Regions from separate parts of the Homo sapiens genome. Here regions 2, 3 and 4 are each linked to region 1. The links come from fine-mapping of genetic effects on gene expression. A gene starts in region 1. Each other region holds a variant in brackets. All regions are shown on one strand. Distances are from middle to middle. Region 1 holds the start of MGAT4A (alpha-1,3-mannosyl-glycoprotein 4-beta-N-acetylglucosaminyltransferase A). Region 2 overlaps LINC02611 (long intergenic non-protein coding RNA 2611). Region 3 overlaps MGAT4A (alpha-1,3-mannosyl-glycoprotein 4-beta-N-acetylglucosaminyltransferase A). Region 4 overlaps INPP4A (inositol polyphosphate-4-phosphatase type I A).

Region 1 (8,141 bases):
TGATAGAGGAGGAGAATCATCATCAACAATATTAAAAAGAGAAAAAGATATGGAATGGGATTCAGTGGGGTTTGGATGGATTGTCTTTGATTATTAACAGATACTATGGACTTAGTTGGAAAATCCAGGATCATAAACTCTGCTAAGTTAACATGAATCATCAACCAATTATACCCTATACCTTGGAATAATATATTCTATGGCATTCCAGTTTCTTGGGACAACTCACTGAAATCCAGACTTTCCTGAGCTACAATGTATATGGTTTGAGATAAGTGTAACCCTATTTTCCAAAACCTGCCCTTCTGCTGCCAGTTGAAGCAGCAACGAAGTATCAAAAAAGCCTCCAAGTGAAAGCAGTTGTGTTTTTCCTGTACACTTTTTGTCTTCTGCTGTGCTTCCTCCACTACCCAGAGTGCAGGGGAAATTCCGCTTTTTATCTGAATAAGCCGGTGGAGTCTATAACTGAAGTTTGTCCTTCCCCCTATTCCTTTCTCCTCTGACATATGCCTCTGCTTATAGAATGTCTGTAAATGCTTTCATTTCCTTCCTTCACTAAGAGAAAAAACTGGAGAAGGTGAAGAGAAACATCTTTTTTTTTTTTTTGATGGAGTTTCACTCTTGTTGCCCAGGCTGGAGTGCAATGGCGCGATCTTGGCTCACTGTGACCTCTGCCTCCTGAGTTCAAGCGATTCTCCTGCCTCAGCCTCCCAAGTAGCTGGGATTATAGGCACGCACAACCATGCCCAGCTAATTTTTGTATTTTTAATAGAGACAGGGTTTCACACTGTTGGTCAGACTGGTCTTGAACTCCTGAACCTCAGGTGATCTGCCCGCCTCAGCCTCCCAAAGTGCTGGGATTACAGGAGTGAGCCACCACACCTGGCTTTTTTTTTTCTTTCTTTTGAGAGAGAGAGAGAGAGAGAGAGAGAGAGAGAGAGAGAGAGAGAGACAGGGTCTCACTCTGTCACCCAGGCTGTAGTGCAGTGGCATGATCATATTTCATTGCAGCCTGGAACTCCTGGGCTCAAATGATCCTCATGCCTCAGCCTTCCCAGTAGCTGGGACTACTGATGCATGCACACCAGGCTAATTTTTAATTTTTATTTTTTTAAAGACATGGGTCTCTCTCTGTTTCCCCGGCCGGTCTCGAACTCCTGGGCTCAAGCAATCCTCCTACCTCTGCCTCCCAAAGTGCTGGGATTATGGGCATGAGCCACTGTGCCCAGCTGGGAAATATATGTAAAAATATTCATCCACTCAACAAAATTTTGTAACTTGCTGAAGATGTGAGCAGAGAGATAGTCTGGAGGGGTGATGTAGGGGCTCTGGAATCAAACAGACCTGGATTTGAACTCTGATTCAAACATTTACTAATTGCCTAAATTACTGTTTGTATCTGTCAAATGTCTTAATTTCTCAGGGCCTCAGTTTCTTCGTGAATAAAATAGGGATAATAGCTCCTGTTCCATTTGGTCTTTTGGGTAATTCATGAAAATGGCTTGGGGGCATTCTCCATGATGTTATCAAATGGCAGGACTTTCTTCCTCTGCAAGAAGTAGTTTGCTTGTCTGTCATTAAGAGCACTGTAATAGCAAAGCCTAGAATCATCTATTCCTAGGAGATATTTTAGGCAGGATATATCCAACAATGTATTAAAAGCTTTACCTTGGAATGGTCTCAGTCTTTACCTCTGTTTACATCTGGTCATGAATCAAATTGCCAGCTTGCTACTTGGCAATGGCTTTGTCATAGAATACAGGAAACCTGGCTTTCAGGTCCCCAATGTATTCGTCCGTTTTCATGCTGCTGATAAAGACATACCCAAGACTGGGCAACGGACAAAAGAGGTTCAATGGAGTTACAGTTCCACATGGCAGGGGAGGCCTCACAATCATGGTGGAAGGCAAGGAGGAGCAAGTCACTTCTTACATGGATGGTGGCAGGCAAAGAGAGTTTGTGCAGCAAAACTCCCTTTTTTAAAACCATCAGATTTCGTGAGACTTATTCACTATCACGAGAACAGCATGGGAAAGACCCTCCCCCATGATTCAATTACCTCCCACCAGGTTCCTCCCACCACACAGGAATTGTGGGATTTACAATTCAAGATGATATTTGGGTGGGGACACAGCCAAACCGGAAGTAGAGAGAAAACACACTCAAAGTAGAGGGAAGAGCTGTCATTGGATATCATGGCTGTGATCCCCCAAGTTGTGTCCACAGTGCTGGGCAGTGGACAGATCTTTTGGTATGGTTCCCCTAAACTAGTAAGAGACTATGGGAGCAGGGATGTTACGTGTCTCTTCCTGAAGTTTTAAATTAGCCGTCATGGAGAAACCTCAACATGGGAAGGCTGATAACTCCATGCATGTTCTAGCTGATTATTAATTATTCTTATCTTGAGATAAAAATAATGGAATTTATCGGAGGTGGGGAGGGGACCCTGTTCTGATTGATGCCTCTTAAGAGTTTTCGATTATTGAAATTACTGTTTTCTGAAAAGAATCTACTTATTACTTTGGGAGTTTGGCAGGAACAAGGCTGCCTCCTTGATCTTTGGCCCCTCAATTCCCTTACAGGTTACTCGGTAGGATTGCTGTAAGGATTATTGCGGCAATAAAGTTAACACATCCCTTGTTTTTGAACCATTACCAGCTGTGTGACCTTGGGCAAGCCCTTTCACCTCTCAGCTAGTTTCCTCTTATGAAAAATGGGGAATAAATTTAAAACATGAGATATGCAATAAACGATCTAACACCCATGCCTGCTATACGGTTGCCTGCTATACAGTTAAGTATTCAAAAGAGGACGTACCCAGGGGTAGTTACTGTTAGCACAAGTCCTATGGATACTATGAAAAACAGGGACAGACCACCCAGGCTTTCTACAAACGAGTCAGTTTTTTGCCTTTGAAGTTAACCTCTAACCTTGTGAAACGGCGACAGATAAGGACATGGGGTTCAAGAAAACGGGGCATAGTGGAAAATCAGGGGCATTAGCACCCAACGATGTGCGTTGAAACCCTAGTTGTTTTTCTCCTTCCCAGTTGCTGAAATCAGCCCTTCTGGCCGATTCGCGGGGTTCTCACCGGGAAGTTGGGGCTGTCGCGACCGTCCGCGGGGCCTCGGGAGCTCCTGTGGGGCTGGGCCCGGGACCTGTCCCCGGGGAGGCCGCCCAGTTTGGGCGGCCCGGAGCGGGGCGCGCCGCTGGGAAGGGGCCGGGTCGAGGCAGGCAGGCGCCTGGGAGCTGGGGCAGCCCCGGGTGGTCGGGTCGCGCGCCGAGGCGCAGGCCGAGGGCTCGCCCGGGCCTTTGTTGGCCGCCGGAGCGGTCCCTGCACGCGCCGGGAGGATCTCAGCCAGATGTGGCAGCGGGGCGGCGGGGAGCAGGCCGGCGCCCAGAGCTGGGACCCGAGACCGCGGCTCCGCTCCGGACCTCGCCGTGACACCGATGAGCCGGGCCAGCCTCCCGAACGCTCCGCAGGCTGCGTGGCGGCGCCCCTAAGTGACAGTCGCGCGGGCCACTGGTGGGGCGCGGGGCGCGGGGCGCGGGGCCCGCGGGGCCGGCCAATGGCTGGCGGGGTCGGGGCGGCCCGGCGGGGCGGGGCGGGGCGGGCGCTCCAGCGGCGGGGGCGGAGCCGGCGGGGCGGGCGGGGCGGCCCGCAGCGGCGGCGGCAGCGGCGGCGGCGGCTACAGCAGCTCCGCCGGCAGCCGCGGGAGCACGGCGACGCCAGCGGCGGGTGAGGGGCTCGCGGCGGCAGCGGCGGCGCGCGGGGGCGGGAGGGGGCGCGGGGCGGCTGCGCGGAGGGCGCGGGAGTTGGGGGCGGCGCCGGCGGCCGGGCTGGCGGCCCCGGGCTGCGGGAGATCCACCTGCTGGTAAAGGAGCCTACTGCGCCGCGGCCCGGCCGGAGCTCTGTGCGGGGGAGCTGTTGGCGCCTCTGGGCGCGGGGCCGGCTCCGGGAGCGGCTGGGCCTCGGGGGCGGGCGGCGGGGCGCGGGCCGGGCCGTCCTCCCAGCGTCCCTGCCCCGCACCGCGCACCCCTCGGGGTCGCGCGCCCTCTCTGCGGCCGGCTCGGCGCCTGGTGCGTTCCTGGCGCTCCCCGGCGTGGCGGGGCTCGGCGACTTTGGGGGAAAGTGGAGCAAAGTGCTGATCCGGGGGGTGCGGAGGGGGAGGGACAGCTGCCTGTGGGACCCGGGGGCTGCGCGGGAGTCGGCGCTTTCGCGGGGGCCGCGGGGCAGGTGGGCGGGGCCGGACGGTCCGAGGCGCAGGGGCAGGGGCTGCTCCCGAGGGGACCGGCCGTGCAGCCTTCGCAGGGAATTTTCACACAAAGTGAAGGGCTGCGGGGCCCGCGTGAAAGAGCAGCCCCCGTTTCCCCAGGCCTCAGCTCTCTCCGTAATGAGGAAGCTGCAGTAGGACCCTGAGGCTGGGTCTCGGTGACTCCACCAAGTGTGCCAGGTGACATCTCGGAGGCGAGCTTTTCTGAGCTGGCAGTCGAGCCACTTGCACACCCGCCTTTATTCCTCGCAACAGTGTGTTTCTCTGGAGCGGTTTCATTGCCTACATTCCGCATTGGAAAATAGAAGCAGGCACAATGTATGCTTTGAATGCTTTCCACGTATTTTGCTGTTGTGCTTTTGCTGTTGGACAGATTATTTGATAAAAGATAATGACAGTCGTTCGTTGGAACGTAGACTGTAAATTTAGAATAAAAATATGCGTTTTGTGGTTTATGTTTCTTTTTCTGAATGTTTAAAAAACAGTTTGATGAACAGGTTATCTTGACATAGATTTCTTTAACCCACACGTGTAAACCCGAAAACGCACTGGGCGATGACATTACGTAAGCTGTATTAAAGAAAACTACTGACCCGTTTATAAATGGCAAATAAATGAATTTTGCCACAATTGTGGTGTGTAAAGTTATATAGGCTTACGTCATGGATTTTATTGATTCCAGATATCAGGGATTATTGTGCCTTTCATTCTTAAGTCACCTCTACCCTGTCTGTGGGATGCTGATTAAGGAAGATGCCAAACGTTCGGCAAAGTGTTCTCAGCCGTGGACTATATTGAGTATTTCAGAGAACACTTTAAAATAAGTAAAGGTTTTGTATCCAATAATAAAATGAAGACTGAAGCCCTTAAAGGATTGCTAACAAAACAGTCTGATGTCTAGAGTTGAAAGTTCCATTCACCTTTGGGAGGGTGGAGAAATGACTAGCAATTTTAGCCACTACCTTTTTTTGTTGTTGTTAAAGATTCAAACGTGTTAGATTATAGTCTCCGAGAATATTAAGGGGCTAGATTAAAATTTTTGCAAATGTGGACACTAATAAAAATGTGGGTCACCTGTGTCTTACAAGCCAGCCTGTGAATTATGTCTCATAATTGAAGAGTGAGTAGATCCTTGGTTTTACTCTTGTCCGAAGAGTTTCTTCACTTGTGCCGTGCAGTTAAACTTATTAGCTGGGAAACCCTAATTAAAAATGTATGACTACATTCTTACTGAGTAAAACACGCATATTTTTCTTGCAAAATTTCAGGGCTTATTTGCTAGTAGAATTTATTGTAAGTATCTTCAGAGTTTCATAACTTACTGGATCCAGTATTTTTTTTTTTTCATATATTAGGGGTAGTATATCAATAGTTTACTTTGGTTTTAGAGTTCATTTACTTGTCTCTATGCATTTCTACGGAATGTTTTTACAAGCTTTATTTGTATTTAGTAAAACTTTTAAAATATCCTTAACTATATGATGTGCGCTCTACCTCCCCGTTATTATGAATTGAGTGCTTACTCTAATAACCTGTATGCTTTTTAGATCTTTTACTAGAACAAAATTCTTTCTCAAGTAAAATAGGGCTAAGTAGATAGCAGCTGAAAGTTATAAGTATTTTAATATAATGCCACACCGGGATTAATGTTCCAAGTTATATAATTCATAGAATTATCACCCGTGTTTTTATAATCAGAATTCATTATTGGGTGCTTATTGATTTAAGACAATTAGAGCAGTCTTGCTATGAAGTTTTTTTTTTTTTTCAAACTGAGTCTCTGTCACCCAGGCTGGAGTGCAGTGGTGTGATCTCGGCTCACTGCAACCTCTGCCTCCCAGGTTCAAGTAATTCTCCTGCCTCAGCCTCCCGAGTAAGCTGGGATTACAGGCACCTGCCACCACTCCTGGCTAATTTTTGTATTTTTAATAGAGACAGGGTTTCGTCATGTTGGCCAGGCTGGCCTTGAACTCCTGACCTCGGGTAATCTGCCTGCCTCAGCCTCCCAAAGTGCTAGGATTACAGGCATGAGCCACCACACCTGGCCACTGTGAAGATTTTAATTCTAAACTGTAGACGTGGGCATGTTTGATGTTAACTTGTCTTAACTGTAGAAGGTGAATAAGTTCAATCTTAGAGAACAATGATAACTTCTGCATGAGAATATTTTTAGATCTCTTTGTGTTCAGGTAGTAAAAGAGGTTAGGTGCTTCTAGAATATTATGTGGAAGGTAGAGCTGCTGTCTGAGGGTTAACAGGCATAGTTTGGTGGAGGGTTGTGGTGAGGTATTAGCCAAAAGCTACAGGAAGTGGAGATTTGTTTAAAGTTGTATAAACATACACTTTGAAAATTTCCATGAATTTTGCAACTTACTCCTTAGTAGATCAGTGTGTGTTATATAATTTATTTTTTTAATTTACACTTACAGTTGGGTATAATTCTGCAGTTTTACCTGATACTTGGAGTATCCCTGGAACTTCTCTTCATATTGCCAGGTGCAGGAGGCCTCATTTGAGAGGGAAAGTGTAGCAGCTAAGAGCTTGGACTTTGGAGACAAACAAATTCGAGTTCTTTCTCTGGATTCATTTCCTTGTGTGTAGAACAGGGTTAATAATGCCTGCCTCATAGGAACGATTTTGTGAAGATTTAAACCATGTGGTGGATCAGGCACATAGGAAACATTTCATAAGTTGTAGTGGCTGTCATTATTAGTACTATGCCCCTGTGATCTTTCTTTACTAGGGGGAATTTCTAGTAGTGTTCAGTGTTAAGAAGCAGTGGTGGTGGCAATTTCTGAATTGCCTGCAAATGGCTGCTTGAATCGGTTGTGCTCTTCCCCAGAGAGAATTTTCCCTTGGAACTGCTGGCCATTTTTCGAGGTATATTAACTCCCCCACTACAGTGTCAGTATATTACCAGGTGCATCCTGTGGCACCTCCTGAGGCTACCAGGAATCTGTTCACATCTTGGAGGGCCTGGCGTGCCTCCAGGGATTGAGACTGACCATGCATAGAGTGGACTGGAACCAGTAGCTGGCTGGTTTTGTTGTTGTTCAATTAACCAAAAAAGTTTGGTTTTTAGTACAGTTGACATTTTTTGAGAACCTATTATATGCTGAATGCTGTGCTTAAGTACTTCTAAGACTTCATTTCTTTCCCTTTTCCCAACAGCTTTGTTCGATCAGTGGTGATTTCCCAGATTTCTTGATTTAAAGCAATGCAGAGTGATAGAGCCTAAGGTGTACAGTATCCTGGCTGGATTGCTGCATTTTCTAAATGCTTAAATAGTTCCAGTTTACACCCTGGGAGTGGGTTAGTCACTGGAAAAACGACATTTATTTTATGACAGTGATAAACAGCAGTTATAACTGTAACCTTTTAATAATTTATGACAATATGTGAAAGAGGACACAGGACAGATTGTTACCTCATTTTGTGAATGAAACCTTGAGACCTAGATAAGTGGCATGCCCCAAATCATGTAAGTAATGACAGAGCTGGGTCAAGGGTCCAGGTCTTTTGACCCTTATATATTGTATTCTGTCAATTTTCTTATTAAAAAAATTTCCTATTATTGTGCAATAGGAAAACTGGAGAGAGTGAAGATTATGTTACTCAGGAACCATTGTGTGATCATTAGAGTTCTCATCTTGGAATCTGTGAGCTCCACTTTTCCCTTTAAAATCAGTCACCATAACTTTCTTTTTACAGACAAAACAAAACCAATGAGGAGGGAATATAGTTTGAAGCTGTTTTGTATTTTTTTCCAGGAGGAGAAGGACCATATAATTCCAGTATGTTAAATGAGTAGTTTCGATGTAGGGATAATCTTTATAGATGCAATTTAGCCCTGCCAAAAGTCTGTTT
Region 2 (8,141 bases), 28 kb before region 1:
CTCGCGGATTCTGGTTACTTGTGCATATAGCCCAGGTTTCTTTGGGACCCCAGGGCTTGTCATCAAAGACAAAGTATCTAGTTGAATGGGGGAGATCATTAGGAGGCAGTGGCAAGCCCCAGAAAAGAAAGTGTCCCACCGTTGGGAGGCACATGGGGAGGCGGGTGGGAGTTCAGTCACGCCTGGCAGAGGATGTATGGAGGCAGGTCCCTCATGCCTTTAACTGCTCCACTGCTGCCTTACAACAAAGGAGAGACCTTCCAGACCCTCATCTGGCATCCTTCCCCTCTTTTCTCCTGAGCCCTGACATTCTGGCAATGCTTCGGCAACACAGAAGATAAAGCGTGGAGAGGGAGACTCAGCCACATTTTCTTACAGATGAGGGTGTGTGGCTGGAAAAGGGCCATTATCGACTCCTGTTCTCGCTTCCCCTCCTCTCTCAGAGTCTGGAGAACTTCGAGAAAAAAGGAGGAGGACACAAAAGGAAATAACAAAAAAGATGCATCCGGAGCAACTATGAGGATGGTAAATTGGTGTCTAATTCTGAAAATCATAATTGGTATAAATGCTATGTACTGTGGAAGGAGGGATGAAGGGTAGAGGGAATAAAAAAGAACATGAAGTTAGAATCCTTGGCATGAAAGCCTGCCATTTATACAAGCAAACAAACAAGATCAGGGACTATCAACTGGCTGGCTGAATTGGACCAATAGGCAGGTTTATTCAGCCCCACACTTCAAAAATTAGGAGATCTCCAAATTAAAATCTGGGAATCTGACCTTTTGTAACAAATCAGAGGATTTGCAACACCAAGAGCATCATCACAGGCAACGACCAGCTTGGATGGGCAGCGGCTGCCCCTGCAGGTGGGTCAGGTGCTCTTCCGTTGGACACAGTCTCCACCACTCCCTGTCGCTTGCTCCTTGCTCCCCATCAGCATAACTGTTTGGGCCTTATAGCATATGCATTTATCACTCCCTACTAGGACGTCCACAACATGAAATGAGAGAACGATTTGGTAAGTTCAACAAAAGGCATATTATGCAGCCACCATACATTCTTTGTGGAAAGAGAAGTGGCATAAATCAATTCATAAATTATCTCAAGTTGTTTCCTCTGGAGTCCTGGGCTGGCTGTTGGATGAATTCATCTGTCTTCTAGCAGATGGACAAGAAAATTGAATTGTAGTGGCCCATCAGGTGTCGATCGCAGCCTCTGGGTCCGTGTAGGTGAGCCCTCACCACAGAGAGAATGAGAGCTGGCTCTAGGACGGGGTGTTGATCTGTGCACAGCTGCCCGGGAAAGGGCCTAGAGAGAGGAGCTATGGGTCCTGCACTGACATCAGCCTTGAACATGAGGCTGGCGTGGCAGCGGCGGCGGGGTGGGGGGGGACATGAATAATTCATATCGCAACCAGATTGATGCTCAGTGAGCTTCAATAGGAATGAATTACCTTGTGTGCATTTCCTGCCTAAATGTCAGTGTATCTTTTCACAAGCGCCTGGGACGGGTTTATGAATAGGTGCATTCTCTGATGCCTCTGCTTTAGGCAAGGCAGTTTCAGAATCTTGGCTGAGTTTCCAACTTCTGACTTGCTATTTACAAACTGTAATCATAAGATTTCAAGTGACACATGACTGAAAAAAAAAAGCCCTTACTCAGGAGAAATCTGGATGGAAATGGAACAATGGTTTTGAATGTATCTGGATCATGAAATGAAAGTCAGGAGGCTTGAGTGTTCTGCTGAGAAAAAGTGATGGGGGAAGAACATAAACATGTATAGGACACTTACTGTCTTGGGAACTTTATGGGTGTTCTCATTGTTAACATCATTTAACAGATGAGAAAAACAGTTCTCAGACATTGCTGCTAACAGAAATTCAATGCAAGCCACATTTGTAATTTAAGATTTCCTAGTAACCACATTAAAAAAGAGAAAAATAAAAAAGAGACTGAAATTAAATTTAATGGTATATTTTATTTAACTCAGTATATCCAAAATGAACATTTAAATATGCCATTGATATAAAAATTACTGATGAGATATTATGCATATTTTTTCAAAACACGTCTTGGAAGTCCAGGGCATAATTCACTCTTAGAACACATCTCATTTCAGACAGCCACAATGTAAGTGCTCAAAAGCCGCCAGGCGTGGTGGCTCATGCCTGTAATCCCAGCACTTTGGGAGGCCGAGGCGGGCAGATCATATGAGGTCAAGAGTTCGAGACCACCCTGCCCAACAGGGTGAAATCCTGTCCCTGTTAAAAATACAAATATTAGCCAGGAGTGGTGGCAGGCGCCTGTAATCCCAGCTACTCGGGAGGCTGAGGCAGGAGAACTGCTTGAACCTCAGGAGGCAGAGTTGCAGTGAGCCGAGGTTGCACCATTGCACTCCAGCCTGGGAGACAAGAGGGAAACTCTGTCTCAAAAAAAAAACAGACAACAATAAAAAAAAACAAAACAAAACACAAAAACAGGCAGCAGCTCTGACACATGCACTTCAAGCTGCATGGCCTTGGGCAAATTGCTTAACTCCTCTGGTCCCCATTTCCTTATCATAATGTTGAGGAATGATATGTCTTCTCAGTTCCTCCTCGGTCATAGGGTAACAGACAAGCACGGCACAGTGGTCACTGTCACACAACAGCAGGGGATCTATGGGTGCAGGCAAGTGGCAAGATGACATATGTGAAATCATTAAAGTTGTATCTCAGATCCAGATGACAAGGATTGTTAAAGGCTGTTTGCATAACCATATTCAATTTGGGGTGATGCAGAAGGGGTATTCAGGGTCTGGTCAGCTCCCACGGGAGGCTTCCTACAACCTGCCAGGCCTTCACCTGGGCAGGCAGAATGCTAATGCCACCAGCTAGGAGGATGTTCTCAGAGGGACGGAGGAGATGGCAGCTTCTCCAAGTTGATCCCTCAAAACCATGACTTCTCTGAGATTTGTGTCTCAGGCACTCGTTTGCAATGACTACTGTAGCAAAATGACTAGGCACGTGCAAAAATGCTGCATCCAGCTTGTTTGAACAATTGCAGTTGTTCAATTTCATTCAGACCAATTAGGCTATATTTTTAGTATGATTATTCAAAGCATTGGTACTCCTTAGACAAAATCTTAGCTAACAAAAGTTAGCTGGAATGAAAATTTTACAGAAAGTAGAATATCTTTGTTACCAAAGGGAAGTTTATTTTGATAAAATTAAAAAGGCCAGGTACAGAATAACATGCAACTTAAAACTATCACGAGTGGGACAGTGTAGACGTGAGAAGAAGATGCCTTTGGGGCCAATGGGCCTGCATTCACATTTTATTTTTGCCACCCTTTTCTTTGGTGACTTTATTACCTTTAAAATGGGAAAGATACACATGTACCTTCCAAGTTACAGGACGGATTTACATTCTTGGCACCATAAATATTAGTTCCTTTTTTTTCTACATCAGTGAGAAAGGATGTGGTAAAACAGGGGGAAAAAAAATAGGCAAGGCCTTTGTGTTTTTGCTTTTTTTGTGGTCTAATTTCTTTTAACAAATAACAGTTGTTTTTCTGATTAGGAAAGTAACACATTCATTGTAGAACACTTGGAATATTCAGAAAAAAATGTATTTTTTTTTAAATCGCCAGTAATTCTACCACCAGAGATAAATACTATGAATGTTTTTGTTTGCACTAAGCACACCTATGTGATTGGGATAATATTATTACCTAAAGTGTTGTGTTCCACTTTTCATGCATGTGCTCTTTTTACATTCTATTTTATTTTGAGACAGGATCTCACTCTGTCACCCAGGCTGGAGTGCAGTGGTGGCATCACAGCTCACTACAGCCTCAAACTCCTGGGCTCAAGCAATCCTCCCACCTCAGCCTCCCAAGTAGCTGGGACCACAGGTGTGCACCAACACACCTGGTTAATTTTTTGTATTTTTTGTAGAGACAGGGTCTCACTGTGTTGCCCAGGCTGGTCTCCAGCTCCTGGCCTCAAGTGATCCACTTGCCTTGGCCTCCCAGAGTGCTGGGATTGTAAGTGTGTACCACTGTGCCTGGTCTGTACTCTCGTTTTTAAAAAGACTCCTCAAAAACGTTGGAATTTTCCTTATTTTAAAAATACTGTTGAAGAACATAACTTAATGGTTATATAATAATATTTCACTATATTGCTGTACCATGTTTTATTTAGT[C/G]CTATTTTTGGACAGCTAGGCTGTCTCCAAATTTTCTCAATACAGAAATTCTACATAATATTCTTGCACACAAATTTTGGTCCACATCTGTTGACGTCTTTAGGATAAGTTCCTAAGAGTGGAATGAGCAACTCTAAGGGTTTTTTAAGTGGTCCTGACTTATATTGCTAAATTACTTTTCCAAAAGATTATGGTAGTTGATGGCCCTACTATGAGTGAATGGTAATTTTTGTACCGTCTGGTCTCAGAACCAAACCATCAGCTACATTTTTAAAATAATGAATTGAGAATGGATGAATTGTAGGCACATATGGGGGTTCTATTTCTCTTTCTATGGGACTCTAGGTATGATTTTCCCATTTTTGTAATTAGGATATACGGCTCCAGGAAATTGAGAGTGAGCCAGATAGTTTCTGGAGAAGTCAACTGTACCGAGGCCAGGAAACACTAGTCATCCCTGAGGGTCAAACACAGTTATGTACTAAGAATGAGGAAGTCCCACACAAAGTGGCAAGATGCTGGGTTAGCCCACAGTCTTAAGAGGGAAACCTGTTCCAGACATGACTTCCGCCCTTGGCAGATGAGGCTTCTGGTTGCCTGCCAATTATAACTAGCTAGAAACAGCATCACGGAGAAACAGTAAAGCAACAGCAAGGTGGCGGCTGGAGACTCGGGCATGAGGCCCAAGGCCAGGAGAGGAGCAGCGGGTGGGAAAAGCCTGAAGGAGGGGCTGGGTCTAGACCAGCTAGCAATCCCACAGCAGCCAATAGCCCAGCCTGCTGGAGAAGAGATTTCTAGAAATGCAAAAGTTTTCACATGCAACCACGAAAGCAGTTCACGGGCGTTCCTGGCACTGTCAGGAGGAAGTCAGGATCACACAGGGTGCACCTGGAAAGCAGCTGCCCTCCCCAAGTTTGACCTGGGCTAGCAGCTGGTACTGCCATGTGGGCTCTGGGTTTTATGAAGTTGCAACACCAGAACCAGGAATTTGGGGAAGATAAAATAGAAACAGAGAAAATATTTATATTTATTTAGACGAGAGATGTGCACAAACCACAAGCCCTGGAGATGCAGGGCGTCTAAACCATTGCCATTATTTCAGTAGCTTTAGGAGAGTTCGCAAGGTAGCTAATGATAAGAAACAGGAGAAAATCATTCTCCAACCCTCACAAACGAAAATGTCTGATCCGAGCACCCGTGGCTGTCTCACTGCTTAACCCTTCCAAAGAATAAACATGAAGTACTCTTCAGTATGGCTATGGGAAGAGCACATCCTGTTGCATTAGGAAACTTTAATTACTAAGTTTGATAAATCAAAGGTTGTCATTTACATGATACATCTTAACTTCAGCAAGAGGTTTAAACTCATCTCACATAAATCACTCAACAACCAGAAAAATACGGTCCTGATGTTGGCATGAGAGAACACACAAAGAATGTTTTCAAAGGCTGATCTTGGGCCAATATAGCTTAAATTTTCATCAGTGATGATAGAGGAGGGTGCAAGAGTAAATGAATAAAAGAGACAACCCAGTATGGGGTTAAAACAGTAACTAGCCATTGAAGATAGGGGGAAGTGAGGGGTAAGTCAACAGAAATCAGTAGTATAGACATATAGAATGAAGTTTGATAGCATCACTTGCCTTTAAAAATGAACAAATTAAGAAAATAACAAATGGAGTGAACACACAGCCTAGTAAAACATTCACTGTCTGGAGTCTCCAAGAATAAGCCACCCTAGGAAGCTAGGTTTCCCATCTGAGAAACCTTAAATAACTAATCTTAGGTTTCATCCATTCGTAATGGAAAGTTTTCAAGAATGTGTCACTCATTTCTCTGCTTTTTTAAAGAATGTGATGGGCCGGGTGTGGTGGCTCGCACCTGTAATCCCAGCATTTTGGGAGGCCGAGGTGGGTGGATCACCTGAGGTCAGGAGTTCAAGACCAGCCTAACCAACATGGTGAAACCCAGTCTCTATTAAAAATACAAAATTAGCTGGGCATGGTGGCACATGCCTGTAATCCCAGCTACTCGGGAGGCTGAAGCAGGAGACTTGCTTGAACCTGAGAGGCAGAGGTTGCAGTGAGCCGAGATTTTCCATGGAGTAAATTTGCTCCATAACTTGTATACGAGAATGATCTAGGGTGCCTGTAGGTTCAGGCAAGTGAGTAGCTAGATTTAAAGTATGCCATACTTTAAGAGTTACATCAGGAGTGTCTAGCAATAAAGCCTGATATTTTAATGAGTCCCCCTGTCATCCACTGGTGTCTTTTAGTTTCTAGGACTCCTTGTACTTGGTGTGGGGTTAAAACCTCCAGATGTTGTCTTAAAGCCAGTTTATTGTTTCATCTACTAAGGCAGTTGCTGCAACTGCCCTGAGGTATCCAGGCCATCTTGAAGTGACATGGTCTAGTCGTTTAGAAAAATATGTCACTGGTCAGGGAATAGCTCCCAATTTCTGGACAAAGACACCTAGGGCAGTGCTTTGTTTTTCAGTCATATAAAGGAAAAGCGGCTTATCAAAATTAGGGATCCCTAGGGCTGGGGTTGATCCCAATTTCTCCTTGAGAGTTTTAAAAACCTGTTCACAATTACTATCCCATTCAAAAGGACCTACATCTGCTCCTTTCAGAGTCTCATCAAAAGGCTTGCCTATATGCCCAAATCCAACTACCCATAAAGAGCAGAATCCTGCCATCCCTAGGAAAGTCCACAGGTGTTTTCTAGTTTGGGGTTTTGGAATGTCCAAGATAGTTTCCCTTCATTCTGGTGTTATTGTCAGGGGTTGGAACTTATTCTGAGTATTTAATCTCTTGAGTTGAAATCTGGGCTTTGTGTGGTGAGACCCTGTACTTACTAGTTCCCAGAAAGTTTAGTAACTGAATGGTATTTTTGTCCAAGTTTCTTTTAGTTGAGCTAGTAACCAACAAGTCACTCACCTATTGGGTAATAGTGTTTTTACTTAATTGTACCATTTTAAATTCTCTAGGTAGTGCATTTTTAAACAGATTAGGGTTGTCCCTAGACCCCTGGGGAAGAACTGTCCAAGTTAATTAAGAAACTAAATGGCTATCAGTATCAGTCTTTTCAAAAGTAAAGATGAATTGTGAATCAGGGTGTACTGGAATGCAAAAAAAAAGGTCCCTGGGCTAACAGCGTGTAGGGATTGGGCACTGTAGTATGTATAGGAATGATAGTCTCATTGACAGCTCAAAGATCTTGAACAAATCTGTAGTCTCCATTTGGCTTTTTAACTGGCAAGATTGGTGTATGACAAGGAGATTCACAGGGCCTTAACAACCCAAACTGCAAAAACTTAGCAATTAGTGGTTGGATCCCTCTTTATGTCTCTGGCTTTAAGGGGTATTGTCTCTTCCATGGGTGTGGGACACCAGGCTTAAGTTGGATGCAAACTGGGGGAAGGTTTAGCATTTTGCCTGTAACTTTAGTGACCCATACTATAGGATTTACTTGGGAGGTTACTTCAACAGGTAAAGTAGGTAAGCCCCTTTGACTCTCCTCCCTTAACAAAGGAAAGGAGAAGGAACAACCCCTAGTCTGTCTTTTGATTTCCAAAAGATACCACTGTTTGCAATTCAGTTAACAATCCCTTCCCAACAAGGGGGTGAAGCATTCAGGTATGATAAGAAAGGCATGTGAGAAAACCAAAGTTGTTAAGGGATAGGTAAAATGGCATTTATGGGCTTGTCCATCTATCCCCGTGACCATACAGTTTTGGGGTGACAGAATCCCATTATAATGGGTCAAAACAGAGCAAGCAGCCCCCATGTCCAAAAGCAAGTTAACAGTCTTACCTGCCACGTCGAGGGTTACCCAGGGCTCCTTCGGAGATATGGCTAGTTGTCCAATGGGAGTTGTGGCAGAAGGTCCCAGGCCCCGTCACTCTTGGGCTTGCCTGGCTATTTCGGCCATCATTAATTTGGGTGCTGATGGCC
Region 3 (8,141 bases), 67 kb after region 1:
CTGGCCATGGTGGTGGGCACCTGTAATCCCAGCTACTCGGGAGGCTGAGGCAGGAGAATCATTTGAACCTGGGAGGTGGAGGTTCCAGTGAGCCGAAATCATGCCATTGCACTCCAGCCTGGGCCACAAGATCGAAACTCTGTCTCAAAACAACAACAACAACAACAACAACAACAACAACAACAAAAACTGAATGCCTTTAACAGCACCCAAGTCACCTCTTGAATGCTTTGCTGCTTAGAAATTTCTTCTGCCAGATACCATAAATCATCTCTCTCAAGTTCAAAGTTCCACAAATCTCTAGGGCAGGGGCAAAATGCTGCCAGTCTCTTTGCTAAAACACAACAAGAATCACCTTTACTCCAGTGCCTAACAAGTTCCTCATCTCCATCTGAGACCACCTTAGCCTAGATTTCATTGTCCATATCATTATCAGCATTTTGGTCAAAGCCATTCAACAAGTCTCTAGGGAACTCCAAAGTTTCCTATATTTTCCTGCCTTCTGAGCCCTCCAAACTGTTCCAGCCTCTGCCTGTTAACCCAGTTCCAAATTCACTTCCACGTTTTCAGGTATCTTTTCGGCAGTGCCCCACTCTCCTGGTACCAATTTACTGTATTAGTCTATTTTCATGCTGCTGATAAAGACATACCTGAGACTGGGCAATTTACAAAAGAAAGAGGTTTAATTGGACTTACAGTTCCATGTGGCTAGGGAGGCCTCACAATCATGGCAGAAGGCAAGGAGGAGCAAGTCACATCTTATGTGGATGGCAGCAGGCAGAGAGCAAGCTTGTGCAGGGGAACTCCTCTTTTTAAAACCATCAGATCTTGTAAGACTTATTCACTATCACGAGAACAGCACAGGAAAGATTTGCCCCCATGATTCAATTACCTCCCACTGGGTCCCTCCCACCACACGTAGGAATTCAAGATGAGATTTGGGTGGGGACACAGCCAAACCATATCACGTGCCATCTAAACTTTAGCAAAGCAAAACGGAAACCAAAAACCCTCGAGAGTATGGTAGGGATAGAGAATTTGCATTGTGACTTTATGCCATTCTTGTTTGCACACTGTGGATCACCATGGGCTTTGCTTTCATCATAGTGAAGTCTTTGTACTCCATGAGTTAGCATTTTCTAGGAATGCTCCTCATCCTAGTTGTTACGCTGGTAATTTTTTTTTTTTTTGAGACAGGGTCTTGCTCTGTCGCCCAGGCTGGAGTACAGTGGTGTGATCACAGCTCACTGCAGCCTCTACCTCCCAGGCTCAAGTGATCCTCCCACCCCAGCCTCCCAAGTAGCTAGGACTACAGGCATGCGCCACCATGCCCAGCTAAGTGTTTTATTTTTTGTAGATACCAGGTCTTGCCAAGTTGCTCAGGCTGGTCTCGAACTCCTGGGCTCAAGCGATCCTTCCGCCTCAGCCTCCTGAAGTGCTGGGATTAAAGGCATCAGCCACCACACCCGGCCTTAAATTCTGAGGTAGATTATTCTATGGAATTTTGCTTCCATTGTAACTCATCCTGTCTTTTGGGATCTCAGAGTAACATGGTCAGAAGAGAAATCTGGATTGGAGGCCCTCTCCTCAAGTGTGTTGTTCTGAGTGAAAGTTGCCCCCGTCCAGTTACTCAAGTCACCCTTGATTCCTCCCCTTCTCTTGTCTGCCAGCTGAAGCCCTATTTGCAAGGGTCTCCATCATCCACTCATCTCCACCTCTTCAAACACCCTACAGCCTCATTCAAACCACCATCTTTTCCTTCAGTTAGTACATTAACTTCCTAACCACTCTTCCAAAGTGCTTTTACTTTTTGTGAAATTTGGTAATCTCTTAAAATTACAAATTGGATAATGTCATTCCCCTGCTTACAACCTTACAATGGCTTTCTCTTGCACTCAGCATTAAAACAAACTTTGTTATATGCAATGTGACCCCTGACTGATTTTCTCAATCTGGGCTTATTCTGCTTTCGATCCAACCTGCTCTTGGTATTTCTTGACTATGTCAAAATCATTCTGGCTTCAGGGCCTTGTTGCTTCCTCTTCTGCAGTATTCTTCATCAGCTCTTTCTCATGGTTACCAGCTCAGCTGATATCAGAGAGGCCTTCCGTGACCACACGACTTACAGGGGTACCCCCTCCCCATTCATCACTCTGACAGTACCAACCTATACATAGCAGCCTGTAAGATACATATATTTTAAATCTTTTTCCCCTTTCTAGAATGTGCGTTCCATGAGGGCAGGGACCTTACCTATGTTATTTACCATTGTATGCTTAACACCTAGAATAGTGCCTTGCAGTAAATATGTGCAAAACAAATAGAGCAAATATCTTTTTTTGGGGGGACGGAGTCTCATAGAGCAAATATCTTTTTGAGTGCTTGAGAACTCTTCTTGCCTAAAATGGAAGAGAGGGTTGTGTCACGAGACCTTGGGGCAGTCCCTTAAACCTTTCGCATCTTAGTATTCTTACCTCAAGAATCATGGTGGTAGATCCATGGTCTTTACGCTCCCTTCTGGCATTAGAATTCTTTTTTTTTTTTTTTTTGAGATGAGATGGAGTCTTGCTGTGTTGCCCAGGCTGGTGTGCAGTGGCGCGATCTTGACTCACTGCAACCTCCGCCTCCTGGATTTAAGCAATTCTCCTGCCTCAGCCTCCTGAGTAGCTGGGACTACAGGCGCCCGCTACCACACCCAGCTAATTTTTTGTATTTTTAGTAGAGACAGGGTTTCACCGTGTTAGCCAGGATGGTCTCGATCTCCTGACCTCGTGATCCACCCGCCTCGGCCTCCCAAAGTGCTGGGATTACAGGCATGAGCCACCACACCCAGCCCCTGGCATTAGAATTCTGTGAATTATAAGTATTTTTTAGTATCTCCAAAAAATTGTTGCATGATTAAGACTAAGTTGTTTTTACCATATTTAAAATACTTCTGTATTGATACATAGCGTACTAAGACTTTAAGGCATAATTTTTAAAAATTTACTTTGAAATACCTCTATAATGCAGTATAAGTGTTCCTAAAAATCACTGTGGTATGAAAATGGTGCAAAAAAATGAGAGCAAGGGGGTTAGGATCACAACACTCAAACACTTTGTCAGTTACACTATAAAAAAGGATAAGAACCTAATTATAATAGTGGCACAGTTTTTCGCAAGTTAAATGATTAAGAAACACATAAATGTGGCATTCCATCTTGAAAAAGCCCTGAGATTTGCTTGTTGAAGTGGGTTGCTGAAGGATTGCAGCTTGTAAGTTATTGTGAAGGGCTGTGAGGTAGGTTATTTGCAATCTGATGGAAGGTTGCAACACCCAGTGTGGATGGGTGTGGTTGATAGTTGTGGTGAACTGAGACAGCTGGTAGGTATTTTGAGGTGCGTGCATTTTGTATGCAGTATTTCTACATGGTTCGGTTTAATTTTCTGAACTCAATTCAGCTGGGTACAATTTTCTGTTGTTCACCTGGTGTTTGTCTCAGAGGACAAATTGCACGTAAGCTAATGTGAAATTCATGTGTTATGCCCCAGTTTTTCCCTAATATGTTAATCATGTAGAAACAAATTTGCATTGAAAACAAGCATTATAGGAACATTGACTGTAATTTTAGTCTTTAAAAATGTTGCACAAATAGTACACAAAGTTTTCTCTTTTTTTTTTTTTTTTTTTTTTTTTTTTTTTGAGATGGAATCTTGCTTTGTCACCCAGGCTGGAGTGCAGGGGCACAATCTCAGCTCACTGCAACCTCTGCCTCCCAGGCGATTCTTGTGCCTCCACCTCCCAAGTAGCTGGGATTATAGGTGTGCGCCACCATGCCCAGATAATTTTTGTATTTTTAGTAGAGACCGGGTTTCGCCATGTTGGCCAGGCTGGTCTGAAACTCCTGAGCTCAAGCAGTGTACCACCTGTACCTCCCAAAGTGCTGGGATTACAGGCGTGAACCACTGTGCCTGGTCACAAAGTTTTCATATGCCCTTACCCAGTGTCCCTACATGACCATAGTATAGCGATCAAAAACCAGGAAGTTAACGTTGATGCTACACTGTTCACTAACCTTAGCTCTTACTCCGATTTTGTCATGTGTTTCATTGTTGCTGTTTTTCTCTTTCAGGATCCAAATCAAGATCCCATATTTCACTTAATTGTCGTGGTTCCTTAGTCTTTTCCAATCGGGGACCATTCATTACTCTGTCTTTCATGACCTTGACACTTTAAAGAGTACTGTTATTTTGTGGAGCATTGCCCCAGTTTGGATTTTTCTGATGTTTCTTTACGGTTAAGTTGAGGTTATGCATTGTTGGCAAGAACAACCACAGAACTGAT[G/A]TTGTGCTCTTCTCGGCATGTCACATGCTTGAAGTCGAGAGATAAGACATTAGTTTTTAAGATATGTTTAGTGTTTTTAAGTTTTAGTTGTAAAATACAGTTTGCTGTTTATACTTCGCAGCCATTCATTTTTTAGTGTGAAGTTTAATGTCTTTCATTTTTATCAGTTCTTTTTTTCTTATGGTTAAGCCATGTGAAAATGAATTACAGTATTACAGGTATGCCCTTGTATTCTTTATTTTTCTTCCTGAAACTTAATATATTTTGATCCATCAGTTATTCCTATCAATTTGAGAGGGTATAATACTTTTGAAATAGAAGTGTTTTTCTGTATTGTCCTTGTACAGTTTTTTAATATAATTACTATTTTTTTTTCCAGTTTCAATAGTCATGGGCATTCCCACAGTGAAGAGAGAAGTTAAATCTTACCTCATAGAAACTCTTCATTCCCTTATTGATAACCTGTATCCTGAAGAGAAGTTGGACTGTGTTATAGTAGTCTTCATAGGAGAGGTAATTATTTAATTGTTGTTATGTTTTTACCAAATATAGCCTATAAGAGTTGAAACTCTAATTGAATATTTGAATATGCTTTTAAAAACGCTTTTTAAAAAATGTGATGAGTAAAGCTTAGGTAATATATTCTATCTGGTAGTTTAATGTAAATTGAACTCACTTCTGTCCTGCAATTACAAACCAGGAATAGTAATATTTGTTGTCAATAGGATGTTACACCCGTAGATCTTTAAGAACGTGTGCCTATTTCTAGCTCTAAGACTTAAATTTGGAGATTTGCACTGATGATCTTTGGGAGTCCTGAAACCTGAAAAAGGTTTAGGCTCAGCTGGGGTTTTATCATTCTTTTATTCTCTCCATCCCTTCTCTGTACTCCTAAGAAATCATGTGAATGAGAAATACCACACTTCTTGTATTTTAGTCTCCTCAAAAGATTTAGAGAAAGAATAAATCTTGAGCAAGTTCTTTTTAAATCATGAGGAATAAGACCCTAGAGTAAATATTTTCTTAATTATTGTATAGAATTTCAGAATGGGAAAGGATTTAGGACATGGTCTAGTTCTGGCCCACTAATTCCTAACTTTTTAGAGTTCCCCATGTCTTTTTAAATGAAAATGGTCTTGATGATTTCCTTATTAGAGAAGTAAACAAATGCATACTGTTCAAAACAATTACATAAATATATAATGAAAAATTACCTGTTACTCCTCTACATAAATATAACTATTTCAAATTATATGTTAAGACTTTTTGTTCTGAAATAATTTTAGATTTACAGAAAGTTGCAGAAATTATAGAGGGTATCTCCTTCACTCAGCTTGCTCTGATGTTAACAACATATGTAGCCATATTATAGTTATCAAAACCAGGAAATTAACACTGATATAATACTCAACCAAACTACAGACTTTATTTGAGTTTCCTGTTTTTCCGCCTGGGTTCGCCTTTCTGTTCCAGCATGCACTATGGAACACCACATTGCAGTTAGCGGTTCTCATGCCTTAGCTTCCTCCTGTCCATGTTTGTGTCTTTCATGAACTTGGACATTTTTGATGGGCACTGGTCAGTTATTTTGTAAAATGTCTCAGTTTGGATTTATCTGATATTTTCTCATGATTATATTTTGACTATGCATTTTTGGCAAGAATAATATGACTTGCCTTTTTAAAAAGGATCCTGCTGTCTGCTTTGGTAAGGGCAAAAGAAAGGAGACTACTTAGAAAGCTGTTGCCATAATCGAGGTGAGGCTTGGACTGGGAGACTGTTCATGGAGGTGATCAGAGATGGGTAAATTATGAACATGTTTTTAACTAAATGGGTTCTAATAAAAAATGAGAACCATTGCTATAGCATCAACATGCTATTAAGGACAAAGCTCCAATTAATGAACTTAAAATAGCCCTTTTAATGTTTTCTGTTTAGTTTTGTACATTTGAATAGAAATATGTATCAAATTTAGGCTTAAATGTCAAGTCTTCAGAGAGATTTTCTCTGAATGTAATGTTTAAGTAGGCCATCTCTGTTTTTCCTCTATTATTGCATTCTATTTTTATAACACAATATTCAGTTATATATACACATACATATGTGTACATATTTTTGTTTGTTTGCTTATGAACTGCTTCTCTCACCAGTTTTAAGTTCTACAAACAGAGATCTTCTTTATTTACCAACCTATACTCAGAGCTTGATAATATGGATACAGTGGATCCATGTATGTATCCAGTATGGATACAGTGTATATATCCATCCGTTTCTTTTCTCCACATTCTTCCTAATACTTGTTATCTTTTGTCTTTTTGACAGTTAGCCATCCTGACAGATGTGATGATATCTGATTGTGGTTTTAATTTGCATTTCCCTAATGATTAGCAGTGTTGAGGATTTTTCGTATATCTGTTGGCCATTTGTATGTCATCTTTTGGGAAATGTCTGTTCAGGTCCTTTGCCTATTTTTTCAGTGTTTTTTCTTACTCTTGAGCTGTTTGAGTTCCTTATATATTTTGGATATTAACTGTTTATCAGATGTGCAGCATGCAGATATTTTCTCCTAACCCATAGGTTGTCAGGCATGCTGTTAATTATTTCCTTTGCCATGTAGAAGAGTTTTAGTTAGATGTGATCCTATTTGTCTATTTTTGTTCTTGTTGCCTGAGCTTTTGGGGTCATATCCAAAAAACCATTGCCCAGGCCAATGTCGTGTAGTTTTTCCCTTATGTTTTCTTCTGGTAGTTTTAGAGTCTTCTTTTGTTTTCAATCCATTTTGAGTTTATTTGTATATTTCACGTGAGTTGAAGTTCCACTTTCATTCATCTGTATGTGGATATCCAGTTTTCTCAGCACCATTTACTAAAGAAACTTTTTTCATTGAGTGTTCTTGGCACCTTTGCTGAAAATCAATTGACCATACATACATGAGTTCATTTCTAGGCTCTATATTCTGTTCCATTGGCCAGTGTGTCTGTTTTTTAAAAATCAATACCATACTGTTTACATTATTATAGCTTCATAGTATAGTTTGAAATAATAAAGTGTGTTGCCTCCAGCTTTATTGTTTTTCCTCATGATTACCTTGGCTATTTGTTGTGTGTGTGTGTGTGTGTGTGTGTGTGTGTGTGTGTGTGCGCGTGCGTGTGTGTGTGTGTGTGTGGTTATATATGAATTTTAGGATTTTTTTCCCATTTCTGAGAAAAATGTCATTAAATTTTTTGATAGGGATTACATTGAATCTGTAGATCACTTTGGGTAATATGGACATTTAAATGATATTAATTCTTCCAATCCATGAGCAAAGATATCTATTTATTTGTGTGTTCTTCAAATTATTTCATCAACATTTTATAATTTTTGGTGTCTAGTTCTTTCACTTCCTTGGTTAAATTTTTTCCTAAGTATTTTTTTGGTAGCTATTTTAAATGGGATTGTTCTCTTGATTTCTTTTTCAGATAGTTCATTGTTAGTATGTAGAAATGCTACCGATGTTTGTATATTGTTTTCCAGAAAGCCTGTTATAAAAACTTTTTATAATTTGATGGTTTTGCAATTTCCAGGATTAAGCTATACCTTTTTTGTTTGTTTTTCTCAAGTATTAAGTGCTTTGACAGTCTTTATAACATAGATTATATTTTATATATCATTGAGTCTTTTAACAATTGAGCATTTTTATAAGTTATCGCTGTATTTAAAATTGATAGGTAGGTGTATTAGTCCATTTTTATGCTGCTGATAAAGACATACCCAAGACTGGGTAATTTATAAAGAAAAATGGACTCACAGTTCCACATGGCTGGAAAGGCCTCAC
Region 4 (8,000 bases), 160 kb after region 1:
CCCAGGCATCTGTATTTTTCCAGGCTCTCTGGCTCCAACTGCATCTCTGCCAGTCACCTCCACTCCCCTCAAGGCCCCGGTTCTGTGCTCACCTCTCTCATGTTGAGCAGGACAAGAACACCTGTTTTACTGGGGAGACTGAGGCTGCCCAACCTGAGCATATTTCCTCCATTCATGTCCCTACCTTCTCTCCTCCCTCCTTCCCTCCCTGCAAGGGCACCCTCCGCCTGCCCACTCCAGGGCCTGGTCTGTGACTCTGGTGTCCTCTTGCATCTTCCAGCCCTGTGTGTTCTCCTTCCCTCGGACCTTTGAGCACTCCCATGGCCCCTGCAGCTCCAGGGTGTGTCCCACCTGCCCACAGCCCCATCCCTCAAGTTGCTGACAGTCTTTGGGACAAAGTGGTCCATTCCAGGGCAGCACCATTTCATCACCCCTTGATCCCTGGCCCAGCCCTCACCACAGTGAGACTGTATGGGAGAGATCACCAGCAGCTCCTTGTCCACACATCCAGTGTCCGGCAGCGCCCCACACCCTCCTGGCTCCTGCCTTCTTCCTGCTAGCCTGTGATGCTCTCTCTCGCCTTCTGTTGAGTCCCTTCTTCCTCGCTGTCCCCCAGAGCAGGGGCCCCTCCAGATGCTGTTCCAGCCCCTTCTCGTCTTGTCACTCAGTGGCCTCAACCACCAAAGGGCTCTGCTCTGTGGCTCCACATCTGCACTCCCCACAAGTCATTTGCCCATGTCATCAGCTCAGCTGGGGCCAGTGCTGCACTCGCTGTCGGTCCCCTGTAGCCCTGCGCCTCTCTCATCAGCGGGACGGCCCCAGCTGTTGCCGGCAACTCCAGCGTCCTTGCCCAGAGCCAGGTCTGTCAGCTCTCCCAGCAGACACAGCCCTCACCTCCCCAGCGCCAGCTGCACGTGGCCGCTGAGGAGTGCATCCTCAGCCCAAACCCCCCTAACGCCTCATCCCTCTCTCCACGCTCACTGTCACTACCAGGCTGGAGTCAGAGTGAAACAACATCTCATCTGAAGTGTCACAGCCTCACTCTGGCCATCAGCGGCTTGCCTCCCCTCTTCCAATCCAACCGCACACTCTTGCTAGATGAACCTGTGAAGAGGCGTCTTTTTTCCCACTGCTTCCCTGCTGAAGCCACGACTTCTTGGCCCAGCCCCGGAGTGTTCTGCATCACTCTCTCCTAGCAGGACGGCTTCAGCCACAATCCAAGCACATGGGCTTCAGAGCCAGGCACCCCTTTCTTCATCTGGACATGGATCCTATCACCGACCCATAGGGCTGTTGTGGATTCAGCGTGGAAACGTATGTAGAGCCCAGCCCAGTGTCTGGCACATCCGTGACCTGTGAAGGTTCACCAGCAGTACTGTTTGACTATCTCTAAACTCTAAGGTCTACCGTACCGTCCAACAGGATGCAGATGAAGCCTGCCCAATGCAAAGCCCAGCCGATGTGGGTTCCCTCTTTGGAAACCCCCATCAGAGGACACTAGTGTAACACAGAGGGGATGATACCTTCTGACGCGTGGCGCCCCCTAGTGGCTGTGGCAGCGCCTGCACAGAGAGGCCGGCACTCTGGGACCAGCTTTCCCTCCAAGGTAGGGTCCACCCCTCATTCGCCATCGGATCCTCTAGCACTTTACACACAGCAGGTCCTCAGGGAATATTCACTGGGTTGAACTCAAGAGGGAATTCTCGTAGACAGTGCTGTGCAGCTCTCGGTTCCTCCCTTAGTTCTGTGGCTGCAGAGCCCTAGCTGCAGCATCTTCACTGCAGGACACGCAGAGAGATTACTGTCACCATCTCCACTGCCTCCAGGAGATGCCGAGATGGGGCCACCTTGCTCCCAAACACCCAGCAATGTTGGCCCCGCATCTTCCTCTCTAAGCACCACAAAGGGAAGTGAGTGGGCCGCTCACCTGGCCGAGGGTGGGTCCTGCCTCTGTGATTCCCCCAAGTCCTACCAGGAGGTGCACAATGCATGCCACCAAACACATCTTGTGTCAGTGACTACGACAGCATGGGAAGGAGCCATGTCACATAGGCTAGTAGAGAATCGACAGCAAAGAGATGAATGAGGGCCACAGCCAAGGGAAGCTTCTCTCTCTCTCTCTGCGTGTGTGTGTTTAGGGAGAAAGGGAACAGTGCACACACATGCACAGGCATGCACTCACAGAGGCAGGGCAAGCCAGAGCTCAGACATCTAAACTGATAAAAAGACGAGTAAGTGAAACCTACCATGACTGAAGAAATACTTACAATCCTCAGGCAAAACTTCCTTAAACTGCTCAAAGTAGGAATTTAACCGCACCAAACTCTCCACGTTGATGACTTCTTGTAAAGACGTATCGCCAAACCTTGGGAGGTTATAGGGGATGCCATTAGTTGGCTAATGTCACTTTCTTCTAACATGAACACAACTGCATGGAAGCTAACTATGCTGATTCTCTCAAACATTTACTATGCATATCTAAATTCTAAGCCACTCTCCCTCTTCCGAGCATAAAGGCATTTCTACAGTGTTGCTGATCAGTTTAAATGCATTCCATTGGCAGGAATCATGTATCACTGTTACAGGCGTGCCTGAGAGATGACCAGAACATGATGTGGTACAGATCCTGTGCAGCACAGGATCCCCCCTCACAGCCATTTGGCTCAGAGTCCCTGGTCTCCTCCCATCTGAGGCACTTAGGAGGGGGGACGGCAGTGAGGTATGGCTGAGAGGTGAGGATGCAGCCCTGTACTCCAATCTGAAGTCACTCTCTGTGTGCAGAATGAACACACCTGACTGCCAGCCCCTCCGGGACTGACATGAAGCCCTTGCCCTTTCGTCATCGTGCAGGTTCACCCTGATCACACTCAGTGTGCTACAAGGAGCATGTGCCAAATGCCTAAGAAACAAAGCCATAAAATGCCACCTGCAAGGAAGGCACAAGGTGATCATTAGGAAATGCAGGCTCTGAAGTCCAGGTCCTGGGCCCCAGTGCAGTCTCACACATCCCTGCTGAGGGGCCTTCCGAGCATCAGCTTCTCTGTGGCCCGAGAGCATCCCTCAGAGGGCAGGATTCCCTCCTACGGGTCCCAGCCCATCCACCCCTGGTGTCCACAATGGCCTTTTCTCTAGACGCCTGCTCCCTTGGGGGCCATCCCTGACTCTGGGCCTGTGGCCTCCCCTCTGAGGGCTCTTCCCTCAGCTTATAAACAAGCCCAGCTCACCAGTGACCTCAGGGCCAATAAAGAAACAAAGTCAAGAACCTGCCCTTTGCAAGTCCTCTCTGTCCTCAGTGTTGCATCCTCCACCCTCCCCTCTATTCAATGCACCTGGCTCTGGCTCAGCCCTCTCTAGAAACTGCTCCTGCAAGTCTGTGGGATCCGCAGCTACTGGATGCAGGCACCATCATTTTCCCTC[C/T]CCTGGGCCACCTCCCTGCTGGGGCTCCAGTGAGGCTGCGCCTCTCCCTGACATAGGCGCCTCCAGCTCTGCTCACACCTTTGGGGCTTTGCTTCCTGGGCTGGTGCCCTCAGTCCAAACCCAGCTCACCACCTGCCTCTGGACACGACTCTCCTGCCAGTTTATGAGCTCAGTGGGTGGGTCTGTCTGGTGTACTCTCCTCCCACTCAGCCCCAGCCCCAACCCCACTGAAGACCAAACCCTTCCACTGACCACTTTAACAGTTCCCCAGCCTACCCCTCTGCAGAACACCAACACTCCCCTGGCCCTGATCCAGGTTCCCACCTCTGGCCTGGACTCCTCCCAGCAGCCTCCTCCTCACACTTGTCCCCTTCATCTCCTCCCGGCACGTGCCAGCGAAACGACCTACTTTAAATGTAAATCTGATTGTGTCCTGCCCCACTGAGAGTTCTTCAGTGTCTCCCAGCAATGATACCATATTTCCTAAGTTGGTGTGACCCTACACCTAGGCGTCAATGGACATCAACCACTGGGGTTGGACATCAGAAGGCCCAGCAGGAACACGGCATATTGTTCTGGAAACCAAATTTCCTTCACAGCAAGTACTTGAAGATCTCTGTTTAGACTATTCTACACATATCACATGAAGATAAATGACAACACAGGAATCATTCTCATGTACTAGTGGAAGGCCAGTAAAGGGTACATATACCCAATCTACCCTATCTCCTCACACACATGTGCGCACACAGGCACACGTGCACACACAGGCACACACAACTCCCCTCTGCAGTGTGGCAAGTGACCCTGGAGGGCAGTTGCCTTTAGGTTCAGGCATGAGTCTCAGCCTGGCACACAGAGCCTGTCTACCCTTACCTGCCAATCCCTGCCTGGAACCTGGTGCCCCTGAACTCCATGCTGTTTCTCCTCGCCAGGCCTTTCTTCAGTCTTCTTAATCTGACATGTCTCCCCTCCACCTCATCATCCAACTCCTATTCACAATTCAAAGCCCCATCCCCTGCAACTCCAAGAAGCCTTTACAGACCCCCTAGACCTTGCTGGGTGCCCTACTCCGGATCCCACAATGCCCTGTATCTGTCTTCATCATTGCATCCATGTCTCTCTCTCTCCCACCAGCTGAGTCCCTGAGGACAGAGACCACCTCTGGGTCACTCTGTGTCCCTAGCACCAAAGACAGTGAGGTGCACGGCCATGATGAAAATGTTGGCCAAAGGAAGGAAGGATGACAAAGTCTGTCCAGCACTTAGAGCCTGAAGAGGGGTAAGTACGTTTTCTGCATCATCTCCAGGGCCACCACACCCCCGCAGCCCCGAGGAGCCGGCACGCACCTCTCGGCCAGTGTCTGCTGCTCATTGATGCCCACGTTGAAGAGGACGGGCTGCACTCGCAGCAGCATGCCACTCTGGATCTCCCGGGGCAAGGCGTCAAACAGCGGGCCCGGCAGAGGGACCCGCACGTTAAACCCGTCGCTGGAGAAAGGTGGAGAGAGGGAGAGCAGTGTGAGGCCAGAGGGCCACCGAGCAGGCTGCAGTGCCCAGGCTGGCCCTCTGGCTTAGTGATGGCCAAACTGCCAACCACAGACCTTTAAGGGAGTGGCACTAACCTAGGGGGCTGTAATCAGAGCATTTAACAAAATGAAATAGGATAAAAAATTCAGAAGAGTACCTTCCCTGAGATAAACAAAAATGAAAACCGCTCTCTGGCTCAGAGAATTTTAAACCAACACTCTACCGATTTCCTGTGATGACGGGCAGCATGTCTGCGGAGGCGCTGGAAGTGGCCTGAGTGACTTTGAAGGTCACGTTCCTCAAGTCCATGATCCCAAGGCTCATGTCCTCCAGCATTGCCAGCTCCTCCCCTGGACATGAGAGAGGGGCAGGGCTGTCAGGCAGAGGGCCCTGCTACTCTCCCCAGTCTCAGCAGAAGGCAGCCAAGCCCAGGCCTGGCTGTGACAGGAGGGGTGCAGGTGTGGCTCTGGTGGAGGGGGAGTCTCTGAGCCTCTTCCCCTGCAACTCACTCCTCTGTGAGTCAACAATGCCTCTGAAATCCCACAGCCACATCAAAACATGCATCTGGTGGAAACACGCGCCATCCCTTCCCACTATTTCTTGGGCAAGCACCAGATAGTAGGGAGGGAAACAAATACATAAACTCAGAAAGCAAAGCCAGCTCTTGAAACACGAAATGAGAGATGCTAAAGCAGCTTTGCTGTGGCCAGACCCTCCCATTACACAGGGCTTGATATCTATTCGATGTCCTCAATTTCCAATGATTAACAAATGCTTTCTATCACCTTCTCAGAATAAATAAATAATAAACAAGGGTAGGAAGAAGAGAGCCTTTTTAGAGGGCAATTTGGAAATATCTATTAAATTTAAAAATATTCCTACCCTCTGACCCAGCAACTCTCCTTCCAGTCATTCAGTAGCTGCAGAAACAGGCCCACAAGTGCCTCATGCACAGATGTCACTGCTGCACTGGTGTTTCAGGAACAACCCAAAGTCCAACAGGAAGTTACTGGTTAAGTAATTAGCATCCATCCTCAACCAGCAACAACAACAAACCAAGGCGTGTGCGTGTGTAACTGCCAGGTCTGCCATCTGGTCTGCTGTTATATATTTTGGATTTATTTCAATAAGCACGCATTACTGGTATAGTGAGAAAAGTGCCTAGCAAGAAAGGATGGAAACCACACACGCAAGTGGGGCTCCCGATCCTGGCCCGGGCGCCTCACCGTAGGTGCTCAGCAGGCTCTCGAACTGGGCCAGCAGCCCGATGGTGTAGAGCTGGCGCAGGAAGCCGTCGTCATGCAGGCAGTTCCTCAGCTTAATGATGAAGCCGCAGATGAGGGCGGTCAGCTGTGGGAGCGTGGGGTGAAGAGGTTCAGGGTCAGGTGCCTGCTCACCAAATGGCAGTCAGATCATGCCCAGCCCCCCACCGCCCCCTTCCTCTGCTGCCACTGCTCAAAGGGGCTTCAGTGGCACCTCCCATCCCTTGAGAAGCCCAGGTGGGGCATGCCCTGGCCATGGGAAGACGCCCAACAGTGGGCTTGCTATTCCTGTCGCTCACCAAGTGGGTTTGGTTTTTGGCCCAGCTTCTGACCTGACCTATACCTGGCTTTATTCCTAGGCTGGAACTTCTGGAAGCCCATTATTAATTACTCACAGTGAAAGGGTCTATCTACTCATAGAGCCATGCCACCCCTGGCTGGAAACTGAGTTAGCCCCAGCAAAAAACAGAAGTGAGAGACAACATGGTCACTCAAAGTTTCCCCAGTGGGAGATTTTCTATGGGATGAAACAGGACTCTCCAGGATGGGTGAGGGAACCTGTAGAGAACCAGCCCAACCCCAAATCACTGTTCACTTTACTAATTTGATTACTGGCAACTATTAAACTTGTTACATTCATTTCAAGGCTTCACTTCTCTCAACAATAAGAGAGTCCTGCAACAAGCTGCAGAGCTAAGGCACCTACTGTTATACGAGCAATGTTTGCACTGACAGCAAATACCTGTGTTGCCCTCACTCAACCTCTGTGCAGTAAAAAAAAAAAAAAAAAAAAACGCAGCAAAGAAGCCTGTGCCACCCATGCATGCCCTCACTATCTCCTGGGTGCAGAATCGGCAGACTCTGCAGGTGCCAGTTCCTTGGGAGAAGCAAGCATGGGCTGCCAAGGTAGTTCTCCTGACTGTGTTGAAATGTAGACCTCTCTATTAAATAACCTTTAAAGCACCACCAGGAGGAAATATGGCCATCTGGGGTCTTTTACAAGTGAAGTGAGAGGGAAGGGCTTCCTAAGCCTGTCTTTTCTGAGCTGAGAGGTGCCCGTGGTCTCCCTCGGGGTGCTCCCGGGGCCTACCGTCTGGCAGAAGACCACGTCACGGCGGTACTGCAGGCTCAGGTAGGTGGCTATGGTGGGCGCGCTGTCCTGCATGAGCAGGAATACCATGGCCTTCTTGGCCTTGTCACTCATCATGGCCACGCAGTCGGTGAGAGTGGTCAGCAGCGGGTAAAGGGCCTCACTCCATTCACCTGGGGCACAAGCGAAGGGGTCATCACAATGAGAGAGAGATTTTAAGAATTAGGTTCTGGCAATTTAACAAGTCACCTGGCCCCTAACCACTGCAGTCCTCCCACTCCCCCATCTCCACCTCATCTTCCAGCTCTGTCTGGAACCAACCCAGTCTCTAGCCCTCTAGCCCTCTAGCCCCAGCTCTTTCCAGCAACCTCAAACACCAGTTCTACTCCGGTACCTCCAAGACATGCCTGGTCTCCTGAACCTGTTGGGGACCCTAAACAGAAATACTCAAGACAATGCCTTCGGAGGAAAACAACAAAGAAGCTTCTGCAAGTCATGACGAGGCCAGAAAATGCTCTGTCCCCAGAGGCCCATCTCCTTCCACAGCCCTGTAGCACCTCCACCCGGAGAGGAAGGACACCCAGAAAGGTTCTCTGTGATCTCCCTTCTCTTGACCTGGGTATAAAGTCAAGTCAGAGACTCCTCTGCCCTTGCCAAGCCTTGTGTGCAACTGTGTTCAATTCTTACCCCTGCACACCTGGA

Evidence for each region. PIP is the estimated chance that this variant, and not a neighbour inherited with it, causes the effect. A credible set is the group of variants that fine-mapping cannot tell apart.
Region 2: its variant is the best candidate, but not a certain one, in a credible set for the expression of MGAT4A in whole blood (INTERVAL, PIP 0.73).
Region 3: its variant is the best candidate, but not a certain one, in a credible set for the expression of MGAT4A in whole blood (TOPMed, PIP 0.85).
Region 4: its variant is the best candidate, but not a certain one, in a credible set for the expression of MGAT4A in whole blood (TOPMed, PIP 0.89).

What each region holds. Positions count from the first base shown.
Region 1 is chr2:98,726,646-98,734,786 of GRCh38, reverse strand. MGAT4A (alpha-1,3-mannosyl-glycoprotein 4-beta-N-acetylglucosaminyltransferase A) reads left to right here and starts at 3,655. Exons shown (of 16, transcript NM_012214.3): 1 at 3,655-3,739. It overlaps LOC107985922 (a long non-coding RNA gene), which reads right to left and starts at 3,506. Exons shown (of 2, transcript XR_007087150.1): 1 at 3,092-3,506. RefSeq lists silencers at 2,707-3,001, 3,108-3,297, 3,318-3,647.
Region 2 is chr2:98,754,881-98,763,021 of GRCh38, reverse strand. LINC02611 (long intergenic non-protein coding RNA 2611) reads left to right here. Exons shown (of 4, transcript NR_126337.1): 4 at 444-1,959. Among named protein-coding and RNA genes, the nearest start is that of LINC02611, 13 kb to the left of the region's middle. The variant C/G (reference allele first, on the strand shown) is at 4,186.
Region 3 is chr2:98,659,742-98,667,882 of GRCh38, reverse strand. It overlaps MGAT4A (alpha-1,3-mannosyl-glycoprotein 4-beta-N-acetylglucosaminyltransferase A), which reads left to right. Exons shown (of 16, transcript NM_012214.3): 5 at 4,704-4,837. Among named protein-coding and RNA genes, the nearest start is that of UNC50, 55 kb to the right of the region's middle. The variant G/A (reference allele first, on the strand shown) is at 4,325.
Region 4 is chr2:98,562,936-98,570,935 of GRCh38, reverse strand. INPP4A (inositol polyphosphate-4-phosphatase type I A) reads right to left here. Exons shown (of 25, transcript NM_001134225.2): 18 at 7,299-7,471; 19 at 6,173-6,296; 20 at 5,170-5,296; 21 at 4,767-4,907; 22 at 2,268-2,365. Among named protein-coding and RNA genes, the nearest start is that of COA5, 42 kb to the left of the region's middle. The variant C/T (reference allele first, on the strand shown) is at 3,418.